3 separate regions of the Homo sapiens genome follow, and regions 1 and 3 are each linked to region 2. Evidence: fine-mapped expression QTL. A gene starts in region 2. Each other region holds a variant in brackets. All regions are shown on one strand. Distances are from middle to middle. Region 1 overlaps DOCK10 (dedicator of cytokinesis 10). Region 2 holds the start of DOCK10 (dedicator of cytokinesis 10). Region 3 overlaps DOCK10 (dedicator of cytokinesis 10).

What was found.
Region 1: its variant is fine-mapped to the expression of DOCK10 in whole blood (TOPMed, PIP above 0.99).
Region 3: its variant is fine-mapped to the expression of DOCK10 in whole blood (INTERVAL, PIP above 0.99).

The regions. Positions count from the first base shown.
Region 1 is chr2:224,763,211-224,767,524 of GRCh38, forward strand. It overlaps DOCK10 (dedicator of cytokinesis 10), which reads right to left. Exons shown (of 56, transcript NM_014689.3): 56 at 1,880-2,627. The coding sequence ends at 2,511. Among named protein-coding and RNA genes, the nearest start is that of CCDC195, 49 kb to the left of the region's middle. The variant A/G (reference allele first, on the strand shown) is at 2,424.
Region 2 is chr2:225,040,931-225,045,232 of GRCh38, forward strand. DOCK10 (dedicator of cytokinesis 10) reads right to left here and starts at 1,538. Exons shown (of 56, transcript NM_014689.3): 1 at 1,322-1,538. The coding sequence starts at 1,444. RefSeq lists an enhancer at 245-584 and silencers at 1,135-1,374, 1,565-1,934.
Region 3 is chr2:224,807,675-224,811,674 of GRCh38, forward strand. DOCK10 (dedicator of cytokinesis 10) reads right to left here. Exons shown (of 56, transcript NM_014689.3): 32 at 237-412; 33 at 1-110. Among named protein-coding and RNA genes, the nearest start is that of CCDC195, 93 kb to the left of the region's middle. The variant C/CA (reference allele first, on the strand shown) is at 2,315.

The sequences.
Region 1 (4,314 bases), 280 kb before region 2:
TTGGGATTGTGCAGGGTGAGTTTCAACGCTGTTAAGGCAGAGTGGTCTTAGGTGATTCTCTTTAGAGAAGCTGTATTTAAACTTCTTGTTCTATGAACAGTGTCAGGGGCAAAACGGTGACATGATCAAAGATATTGTGGTTTGTGATGCAAAAATAGAATATTTGGCACCTAACACAAGCACAAAGATCTATTATTTTCAATTACTTCCTTAGAGTTTTTTTGGAAGATTTATTTTCAGATTTGGAGGTAACCCATTGCCAACCGTGTCCTGGGGGCATGGGAGATGGGTGGATTGGCATGGGCAAGAGGACTTGAGCCTACAGGTGGAAGTTAGGTGGGAGATGATATTGGAGGCAGCATCTTCCTGGGTGCCTGGAATAGTAATGTCTAAGGTGGCCTAAAGCTACACATGGGGAAATTAAAAGAAAAGACCTGAGATGCTGACCCAGACAGTCAGGAACCAAGAGAACTGGAGGCAGAATGAAGCTGGGAATAATGCTTTGGGCCAGAGCTCATCAAAGGGCAATCTTTTCTATAAAGAAGTGAGCTCTATTTGAGAAAAGAATAGTTAAATGTGTCTTGAGGCCAGGCGTGGTGGCTCATGCCTGTAATCCCAGCACTTTGGGAGGCTGAGGCAGGCAGATCACGAGGTCAGGAGATCGAGACCATCCTGGCCAACATGGTGAAACCCCGTCTCTACTAAAAATACAAAAATTAGCCAGGCATGGTGGTGCGTGCCAGTAATCCCAGCTACTCGGGAGGCTGAGACAGGAGAATCACTTGAACCCGGGAGGTGGAGGCTGCAGGGAGCCGAGATCGCGCACTGCACTCCAGCCTGGGCAACAGAGTGAGACTCTGTCTCAAAAAAAAAAAAAGTGTCTTGAGGGATCCGAGTTCTCACCCAAAATATCTTTCTATCCCTTCTGTGTACTCAAAATGTAAATACGTATTCCAACCCCTTACCTCCCTCCTCACCATCATGTACTGACATGGCCAATGGCCTTGCATAGCAGAAAGATGAGCTCAGCTGAAGTCTCCTTTTTTATGTCTGGGGCTTTGGAATGGCTGCTGAAGGTGAGTATGAAATTAGATTCTCTAGCTTGCCTTCTGCACCTAGAAGCAGCTCAGTTCGGGTCCATGGCAGCCAGTATTCACTAGGGGAGGGAAGTGGGCCAGAGAGTGGAAAATGTCAGTGGTTCCCAAACGTAGGTCAGCACCTATCGGTCATTGCTCTGATAAGCTCATAACATGGTGGTAGCAAACAATCCTGAATCGTAACACAGCAAAATGGTATTTCTCACTCAAGACTATATGACCAATAGCGTTAGCAGGGAGTGTGTGTGTGTGTGTCTTGCTCATTGTAGTTTCCTGGGTACTGAGGCTGAAACAATATGTCAAAGGTAAGTAAATCAGGGCTTCAGGTACATCAAAGATAAGTACATCAGGGGAAGAGGCTGGGAAGAACTACTTACTGGCTTTGAAGCCTCTGCCTGAAAGTAACACATGTTACTTCTGCCTACATTTCAGTGGTTATAGCAAGTCACATGGTCATGCTTGCCTTCAAAAGAGGCAGGAAACTGCAATCCTACCACAAGATTAGAGCAGAGAAATGGAACATTTGTGATCTCTCTGAGAACCTCCACAGACCTCAAGATTCGGATTCATTAGATTTTCCCCAAGTCATTCTAAGTCTCTCCTACATTTGGAAACCTCTGATCTACCCAGTTCATCTTTGGAGGAACTTCTTAGCTGAGATTTGAGTCCTTTGTTGGTTTCTTGGCAAGGCATCCTAAGTATTGAGTATAGATTTGCATTCAGAAGATATTCAATGAACCATTTTTCTCAGTAACTCACCCACTCTTCAACAGGAAACCAAATGCAAAGTAACTGTGTTTTTTATTTCTATGAACAATAAAATACTTTCATAATTTCACATCCCATTGCTTTTAAGAGCACATATATTACAAATAAAGGAACTCCACAAACTTTAAAGATTAGTATTTATCAACGCTTTTGTACACATACACAAATATTTTAATATAATGGTATCTGAAATGTTATTCATATATTTTTAGTACTGTCATAGTATTAACTAAAAAGGATCTTTTAAATTTGGTAAAAACCGTATATTTTACAATCTTTTATTTACATCTGAAATATGCTTAAATGTTACAAAAACATTCACTTTAACCTTTAAAATATGTGTACTAGGACTGGGGTACTGACCATACAATAACTGACAGCAAACTTAGGGTTTGCATTTGAGCTACACATTCACTGGAATTTCATGGCAAATATTCAACCTGGCTTGATCAACACTGCTCAAAGAAAAAAAAATTATACAAAATGTGCAAATTCAGAGGTTGGCAAAATTCTGAAGCTAGCGAGGTAAACAAAAATATTAACACCATGAAAACTTCA[A/G]ATAAATTAAACCTATCTTTCTCTTCCCCGAGATTAGCTGCAAATTCAGAAAGTTCTCTTAGAGGTGGGTCTGATGCTGCAGAGCCCTCAGACTTCAGCACTAGATGAGATGGAGACCGTGGGTAGGGCCGGAGTTGCTTTGCTAATTACTCGAGTGCAGGTTTGGTCCACTCCGCGCTTTGACAGGTCGTCCCTGCCCGTAATCTTAAAACAGGGAAAAACACAACACAACAGAATGCAGAGGTTAATGTTAATATCCCAAACACAAAATTAAAACCCAGAATAGAGGTTTTCATTCCCCACAGGGTAATTTATTCAAATTATAAAAAGACACATATTAAAGTGGATCTAAAGAATTTTCCCCCAAGACCACGTGCTAGCTTTAACTTTTGGTGAAAGTTAAAATATTTTCACAATCCTCTTCTGCTATCTGACATAAATTTATAAATGTTTGGATGAAACTTACAAATATATCTGAGTAATTCCAGGATTTTATTCTATTCTAAAAGTTTATAATTTATATTGTCAGCATCTGCCAAAAAAGGGAAACATTAGAAATTTTATTTAAATGTTTGCATAAAAGGAAATATAGTAAAAAAGTCTTGACCTGATTTTAATCTTGAAAATAATGTTAGTGTGCCTAAAAAATACTTTATCAGATTGATTCAAACAATGACGTGTAAGCATAATAACAACAGAAACTCCAGACACTTTTAAAATATATTTTTGTACAGAAGAGATTTCTGTACAAAGAATTGTGAAGATTTTCCCACTAACTTCACACATTATCCCACTGTGCCATGACCTTCATCTCTACTCTTCCAAGATAGAATCGCTACTTCTGTAAGTGCCCCAAAGAGCACTCAGCTGAGAGCATCCTATACTACCAATAAATTCTCCTTATGATCAATATCACAAAGCTCTGAATAATCTGGCTGATGATGTGTTCAAAGAGTAGACTCCAGGTGCAGTATACCTATGCTTGGTATCACACCAGATTGGGTCCATTCCTTTCTCTGCATTTTGTATTGGATACCCATCATCACAGTTGACTTCACTATGCTGTTATTCTTACTGAATGTTGAAACAGACTCCAAATGGGCATCTTATACTGATGCTTAAACTGAATGCTTATATGCATTACTTTGGCTTCAAAGAAGGCTTTTATGTTTTTTGCTATTTATTATAAACAGTATGGAATTTTGGCACCTATAAAAGCAATTATTGCCTGCTGGTCAGTGACAACTCAAACTACTTTACCTCAACATCTCCATTTTACACAGTAGCATCCACTTTATCTTGTCTTGTCTCGTTCCTTATACTGAAGGTTCCTTCATTAACTAGATGTCTTCAAAATACTCCTCTAGCTAATACTTTTCTAGACACTTTTGGAGTGAATTGCATATGTAGCTGAAACAGCAGAAGGACGAACATAACTACATTTTTTAGTTTTAATCATGGGGCCTTTACCCATTCCTGAATGTAGGCTGGGATCACTTTGGAGCACTGATATAATCTGAAAAAACAGCAATCATGTAGTTTTTTTTTTAGACGGAATCTCACTTTGTCACCCAGGTTGGAGTGCAGTGGCATGATATCAGCTCACTGCAACCTCCGCCTCCTGGATTCAAGCAACTCTCCTGCCTCAGCCTCCCAAATAGCTGGGATTACAGGCACCTGCCATTACAGCCAGCTAATTTTTGTATTTTTAGTAGAGATGGGACTTCACCATGTTGGCCAGGCTGGTCTCGAACTCCTGACCTCAGGCAATCTGCCCACCTCGGCCTCCCAAAGTGCTAGGATTACAGGTGTGAGCCACTGCACCCGGCCTCATGTAGTTTTTAAAACTAACCCTGGGATTAAAGAAGTATGTAGACAACTTCTATGTTTT
Region 2 (4,302 bases):
CTGGCACAGAGTGAGCTAACAGTTGAACCACCTCTGGGTAACTGCGGACTGCAGCTAGTGTAAGTGCAAGAGAAGGCACCCTGGCCACCAATTCGTTTCACACTCCAATCACCCCCGCCCGCTCTACACCCCCTGGGCACCCGATGCCTCTTCCCTCTGCCAGGCAATTTGCTTCCGTTCTGTTCAACTTTCCGACCTCTGGCTTTAGAGAATAGTCCTGGCTGTGGGAACTGGCTCTGGGAAGCTTTTGGCGCCCTCCTCATTGGTGACTGGCAAGAGTAACACTTTCACACTCTTAAAAAGAGCCGTTTAGTTCCTAATGATATTTTCTGGCAAAAAAGAAAATGAAACACACAACCCGGATTCCGGTCCACCAAACGCAGGCCAAGAGCGCGGCTGCTGAGCCCCGGTCTTGCTGTGAGGCTGTTGTTCCCACTCGCTTCCCGTTTCCACTAGAGTTGATTTGTCTCTTGCCACCTCTCCCCGGCAGTGTGGACCTACTGCAACGCAGGAACATCTGGGTTGGTATGGATAGGATCCTAGCATCAGATGCTGGCTGCTGCCCCAGGGACTTCCCGCGGAAATCACCCAGCACTTAGAAGCCGTTTCAATAAGGAAGTAACCAGTAAAGCATTGCTGGTGGGAGAACCCCGCGAAACATCTTAGAAAAATATCAGAAACCGCTGGAGACCTAATGACCCACGTCTCCTCCAGCCTGTGTTCCTCAGCCCTTTCTGGAGGAGTATTAAGTGGTTTGTGGGTTTTTACCCTGCGGTGGGAGGGCTGTTCCAAGTACATCTATTTCTGCGATAGTTAACGTCGGGGGGCCCCAGCTCTAACCAGGGCGAGGACCACGGACTGCATCCCTCTCTCTCAGCGCACTGGTCTGTTTACTGGAGGGTGAGAGGGACGCGCAGACCTCCGGACTCAGGGGTTCTGTTCTGTAGATCCCCCCACCCCACCCGGGGTCTCTGGCACTCGTATCACTTAGCACCAGTGTGACTGGCGGTGCATTCCGGCCCCCTCGCGCCCCATTAAAGCCCCTGCACATCCTCTCCCACGCTGCGCTTCTGCTACCCACGCAGCTGCTCCTCTGAGCGTCCCGCGTGCACAAACGCGCCCCCGGTCCTTACGCGTCGGTGGCGCTGCCTCGCTGAGGTGGCGCCGGGGGAGCCCGCAGAGGCGGCGGGGGAGGGAGTGCGGAGGAGAGGACCCGTGAGCTGCGGGGACCTGGGCCCGCCGAGCTTTTGGGGAAGCTGGGCTCCGTTCCCCCCGGGCGCCTGGGGCGCGCGGGAAGGCGCGGAGGACGCGCCGCACTCACCCGCTGCTGCTGCCGGCTGCTGACTGCCACCGCGGCGGCGGACGCGGCGCTGTGCCGGAGCTCGGCCGCCTGCCCAGGTCTCAACAGGCTCCGGGTGAACCTGCGGGTCCGCTCACCGGCCATCGCCGGTCACGCCAATCGCGCCGCGGGCCCGGGGCGCGCCTCCCGCCGGTCTTCCCCGCGCCAACCTTCTCTATCCACCCGCCGTTCAGGAAGCGGAACTCGGAGCCTTCCCCCCCCTCTTCCTCGCTCAACTCGCAAGAGGCGGGTTTTTCTCTCTTGCACCCCCACTCTTCCCACCCCCTTCCCTCCTCTGAAGCTTCTCGAAGACTTTCCAAACTCTGCGCTCCCCCGGGCGCGCGCGGCCAACTCGGCTGGCGGCCGGGCCCTGCAGCGGCGCATCTGGAGCGGGCGTCGCGGGACGCGTGTGGGGCGGCTCCTGCCCGCGCCGCCCACACGGGCTCAGCTGGCCGGCCGGGGCTGTCCACGCCGCCCGGGGGAACTGCAGGCTGCGGGGGAGGGCGGGGGGCGGCCGCCGAGGGGCTCCGGGCGGGGCCTGTCCAAGGCCGTCGCCTGTCCAAGGCCGTCAGCCTCATTTGGAGGTTGCTGGGAGAGTTGGAGCCCTGGATGCATTTGCCGTTTAGACTTCTATTTTCTGGGTCCGGCTAGTGGGTGGGGGCCAAGCTCGGTTCGCCCTTCCACCCTCGGGAAGGGGTCAGAGGCTTATTAAAGATCTGGTGGCTGGGATCCCAGCAGCATCGCCCAAGCCAGCGTTTGGAAGGCTCCCTTGCCAGAAGTCCATGTTCAGGGCCTTGGAATAAGCTTCCCCATTCATTCACTCCTTCAATGAGTATTTATTAAGCGCCTACTATATGCCAGCTCACACTGTTCTGGAAACTGAGGATACGGAGAGGAACTTAGCAACTACACTTTAAGGCTGTGTAGAGCTGATAGGTTTTTTCGGGGTAGGGGTGGGAGACAGCAAGTAACCAAGCGAACAAATAAACAAATACAGAGAAATCAAGGAGACAGTTTAAGCTACTAACACGAACTCAAAACCAATAAATCAGCGTTCTGGGGGTAAGAGACTTTGGGTGGCATTAGGATGAGTAGGCAAGAACCAACTGGCAGGGTTACTATGTAGGGTGGTCAGGTCGGGGGTGGATTTCACAGTTATGCTGTCTCTGCTCTTCTCTTGCCCATACCCATCTAGCCTGCACTTTGCCTCTAGATAGGTATCTGATGAAAGCCTTCTAAGAAGTCTCTTCCTGGGTCATACCCAGGGTGGTTCTGCAATTCAGTGTTGGACTGGATGGGGGGCAGAGAAGTTCTGGCCCCTGGATACTGGTCTGGAGAGATCTGGGACAGCCTTTCCAAGTGGTCTGGTTTTTTCTTAACAGCTTTTTATGGATCCATGACCCTGCCACTTTCTAAAGCCAATGATAGATAGTTATAACACAAGGTCACATTTGGGTATAAAGAATTCTTAAGCAATTGATAAATGCACTTTAGTCAGCTCTTTGTTAGCCAGGATTCAATTAGCCAGAGATGCTGTTTGGGGATCATTTCAGCACATTCTAGAAATCATAACAGGCGTAAGAGGGTAAGAGGCTCTGGCAGATTTGGGAAGTGCCATTTGAAACATCATCTAGTTCCAAGACAGCCTGCATAACAAATAACTGTACCTGTATTGTATGCTTTCATATTGGTACTCAGTGTGGGAGCAACACCACCTTTCAGGGTAAGCAAAGTAGGTGGTTGCCTCTGTGTTGGTACATGAAGATCTCTGTAGGAACAGCTCCCTCCAACCGTACCCTTTCCCAGGTGTACCCAGACTTGATGTCTCTGAATGCATATTCCCCTGAGAGAACCGATTAAGCACATTTGAATTAACTTGAGCTTCCCAAGAAGAGGTACCTAATCTTTGTCTCTGGTTTCAAAACACTGCCTGGCACACGTAGGCACTCAATAAATATCAGCTTATGGATGACTTTACAAAGGGCTCAGATGGGCTAGTGCAGTCAGAGAGCTGGGTGTGCCTGACACAGAGAAAGTCAGAGAGGAGAAGAGAAAGGTGTGCTGAAAGGGAAGGCTATAGTAATCGATAATACATCAGAATGTGCCCTGCACAAGGCAACTCGCTGATCCAAAACACTGAGTAGCACACACAACCCAATCTCCAACAATATCGAGTAACAGAAAGTCACTTACAATTTGTTAATCGTACAATTAATACACCTAATTGTACTTTTTCCAGCTTCAGGAGGTCACCCAGAGCACTGGTGTGAGAGGGTTTAACGAACAAATGCCTGTTTGCCCAATCCATACCCTGTATGATGTTAATTCCGTGGGTCACACCGAGTAGGAAGGCAGGTTTAAGTGTTGATAGCATACCTCTCACACCCAGGGCATGTCAATAATGATACTTCAGAGACTCTCCTCCGCCCTTATGATCATGTAGGTTTTAGTTAAGCTTCCTTCGGGCACCAAGGAGAGAGAGCTGAGTGTCGACCCTTGCCCCTGCCCTTGTAGCATAAATACACTTATTTTTTGCTACAGAAATGTAACTTCAGGTCTGCTGATTTGGGACCTTGACTCTGCTGGCCACCCATCTCTCAGATCCCTGGAGAAACTCGGCTCAGATGCTTGGTAAACGCAAATCTGTGCACATATCATGAAGTATGTTAAGTTTCTTGGAACAGCTAGTTAATAAGAGAATCTTCAAGGGCTTGTAATATTGTAGAATAGTGGTTAAAATACATGCTCTGAAGTCCAATTACCTTTGTTCAAATCCCAACTCCGTAAGCCTCAGTTTCTTACCTACGCAATCAAGATAGTAGTTGTGTGGCTGGGCTGCTGAGAGAGTTACTTAAATTAGTGTAAATTTCTTCAAAAGTGACTAGCACATGGACTTCAATAACTGTTATTATCCCTACACTTGCAGATAACTCAGGAATTAAACAAGCTTCCATGTCTTTTCA
Region 3 (4,000 bases), 230 kb before region 2:
GATGTATTGACAGTAAAAGGATACAGGTCCTTCAGATAAATCCTTGGCATATTGTCCAGGAGCATGCCGTACAGGGGCATGTATAAACTTGCTATCTGGGCCTGCTTTCTCTAGGAGAAAAGGTAGCCAAAAGAAATGATTCATGTAAAAATCAATAGGCTTGTCGGTTTCATATGCATTTAATGCAGTGAGCCATTAAATGGTGTTTAGGGAAGGGAGAAAGGAAGATCACTTACTGGCTCTCTGTATCGATCATCAAATGAATGCTTAGCCATTAGATTTTTTAGGACAGCTAAAGCTAAGTGTCTGACATCTTGGTCTTCCTGCAGGGCAAAGCCAACTTCTCGGAGCAGAATTCCGATTAAGAAGTGTTTGCGACAAAATTCATTTGTGACTGAATATTCAGGCATATCTTTGTGAGGAAGGAAAATAACTCATGTTATTGAAAATCAAATGATCACTTTATAATTGAGACAGATATACCAAACAACTACCATCAACTTCTTCCACCACTAGGAGGGATTCAGGAATACAGTCTTGCTACAGAAATGAGGTGTGTTGTATCCTCAAGGAGCATTCAGTAAGGGGACTATTCTGTGTAGACAAACACAAATACAGGTACAAACTAACACACAACATCAACTTTTGAATTCCATAATAACAGCATATTTACAGGATTACAGGATTTGAGAGGGGGAAAAACACATTTTCTGCTTGGAGGAATCAGGATATGTTATAAGTAGGAATCCATCAAGATGAGTCTTTGAGGATACTTGAAGTTTGGAGGTGCAGATCTTTGTGGGAACAGACAGAGGCAATGGAGAAAGGACAGGAGGCTGGGAGAAGCGATTGGATTTTCGATGGCACAGAATTCTGAAAGCGCAGGTGTGGAAGGGAGCAGGTATGGAGGGGAGCACGAGTATGTGGGAGTCAATAAGCACAGTGGCTAAAAGAGGAATGGTGAGAGAATTAGGCTTGAGAGGCTGGGGCTAGATGATGGAGAACAGTACAATTTCCTTAGCTGCCATCTAGGTCCCTCTCCATTTGTATTTAATTCTGTAAGGAATGTTAACACACCGATAGCTTTGAGATCAGTGCCCTGATAAGGCTCATGCTTTACTGACTTATTAATATGGTGTGGCAGGGTGTAAATGAATTAGACTGTGGGGAGATGTGGGGTGAGGGATACAATACAGGACATTGTAGCAATGGGGGAGGGAGGGGGCAAGTGACAACGTGATATCTGGGCTGGGGTAGCAGAAACTGAGTGACAAGAGTAACTCACTAGGAAAAGTTGACTGAAGTATTTGAGGGAGCAAGGAGAGAGAAATGGCACTGCCAAATTTTGAGCCTGAATTATAGGGAAAAGACACTGCCAAATTTTGAGCCTGAATTATAGAGAAAAGACACTGCCAAATTTTGAGCCTGAATTATAGAGAAAAGGCCCTGCCAAATTTTGAGCCTGAATTACAGAGAAAAGAATGTTAAAAATTTCCAGTAATAATGGATTTATTCAAATTGTCCAAAGGGTTTTTAAAATGTAACCATTAATAGTAGTACTTGCACGTACAAGAAAACATAGGGAGAAAGCTCTTTGACAGTGGCATTCACAATGATTTTATGAATATCACCCCAAAAACACAGTCAATAAAAGCAAAAATAAACAAGTAGGATTATATCAAATTTAAAAGTTTCTGGACAGCAAAGGAAGCAATCAACAAAATGAAAAAGCAAACTACAGATTGGGAGAAAATGCTTGCAAACCATATACCTGACAGGGGGCTGATATCCAAACTCTACAAGGAACTCATACAACATAATAGCAACAAACAAACAAACAAAAACAACCCGCCAAGTTTTAAAAATGGGCAAAGGATCTGAATAGACATTTTTTGAAAGAAGACATACAAATGGCCAAAAGATATAGAAAAAGTGTTCAATATCACGGATCATCAGGGAAATGCAAATCAAAACCACAATGCACTATTACCTCATAGTTTTTAGGATGGCTATTATCAGAAAGTCAAATGAGAACAAGTATTGGTGTAAAGAAAAGGGAATCCTTGTACACTGTTGGTGGAATACGGTCATTATAGGAAACAGTATAGAAGGTCCTCAAAAAAGTAAAAATAGAGCTACCATATGATCTAGCAATCCAACTTCTGGGTATACATCCAAAAGAATTCAGATCATTATGTTGAAGAGATACATTGCAGCATTATTCACAATAGCTAAGCTATGGAAACCTAGGTGACCATCTATAGATGAATGGATTAAAAATGGTATATACATACGATGGAGTATTATTCAGCCT[C/CA]AAAAAAAAAAAAAAAAAAAGAAATCCTACCATTTGTGACAATACAGGTGAACCTAAGAGTCATTATGCTAAGTGAAATAAGCCAAACACAGAAGGACAAATACTGCATGATCTCAGTTAATATGTGGAATCTAAAGAAATCAAACTCTGGTGGACAATAAGAGAATACTTGATAGGTACGATGTACATTATTTGGATGATGGATATCCTAAAAGCCTTAACTTCACCACTATGCAATCTATGCATGTAACAAAATTACACTTGTACCCCTCTAAGTTTCTGCAAAAAAATTAAAGAAGTTAACCTCATAGAAGCACAGAGTAGAAAGATGGCTGCCATGGGCTGGGGAATGGGAGAAATGGGAGGTGGATTTTAGTCAAAGGGTACAAACTTTCAGTTATAAGATGAATAAATTGTGGAGGTCAAATACGTAGCATAGTAAGAATCGTTAATAATACAATATTGTATATTTGAAATCTATTTTTTTCTTTTTTTAAATTTTATTATTATTATACTTTAAGTTTTAGGGTACATGTGCACAATGTGCAGGTTTGTTACATATGTATACATGTGCCATGTTGGTGTGCTGCACCCATTAACTCGTCATTTAGCATTAGGTTTATCTCCTAATGCTATCCCTCCCCCCTCCCCCCACCCCACAACAGTCCCCAGAGTGTGATGTTCCCCTTCCTGTGTCCATGTGTTCTCATTGTTCAATTTCCACCTATGAGTGAGAACATGCAGTGTTTGGTTTTTTGTCCTTGCGATAGTTTGCTGAGAATGATGGTTTCCAGTTTCATCCATGTCCCTACAAAGGACGTGAACTCATCATTTTTTATGGCTGCATTGTATTCCATGGTGTATATGTGCCACATTTTCTTAATCCAGTCTATCATTGTTGGACATTTGGGTTGGCTCCAAGTCTTTGCTATTGTGAATAGTGCCGCAATAAACATACGTGTGCATGTGTCTTTACAGCAGCATGATTTATAATCCTTTGGGTATATACCCAGTAATGGGATGGCTGGGTCAAATGGTATTTCTAGTTCGAGATCCCTGAGGAATCGCCACACTGACTTCCACAATGGTTGAACTAGTTTACACTCCCACCAACAGTGTAAAAGTGTTCCTGTTTCTCCACATCCTCTCCAGCACCTGTTGTTTCCTGACTTTTTAATGATCGCCATTCTAGCTGGTGTGAGATGATATCTCATTGTGGTTTTGATCTGCATTTCTCTGATGGCCAGTGACGATGAGCATTTTTTCGTGTGTTTTTTGGCTGCATAAATGTCTTCTTTTGAGAAGTGTCTGTTCATATGCTTTGCCCACTTTTTGATGGGGTTGTTTGTTTTTTTCTTGTAAATTTGTTTGAGTTCATTGTAGATTCTGGATATTAGCCCTTTGTCAAATGAGTAGGTTGTGAAAATTTTCTCCCATTTTGTAGGTTGCCTGTTGACTCTGATGGTAGTTTCTTTTGCTGTGCAGAAGCTCTTTAGTTTAATTAGATCCCATTTGTCAATTTTGGCTTTTGTTGCCATTGCTTTTGGTGTTTTAGACATGAAGTCCTTGCCCATGCCTATGTCCTGAATGGTAATGCCTAGGTTTTCTTCTAGGGTTTTTATGGTTTCAGGTCTAACATGTAAGTCTTTAATCCATCTTGAATTGATTTTTGTATAAGGTGTAAGG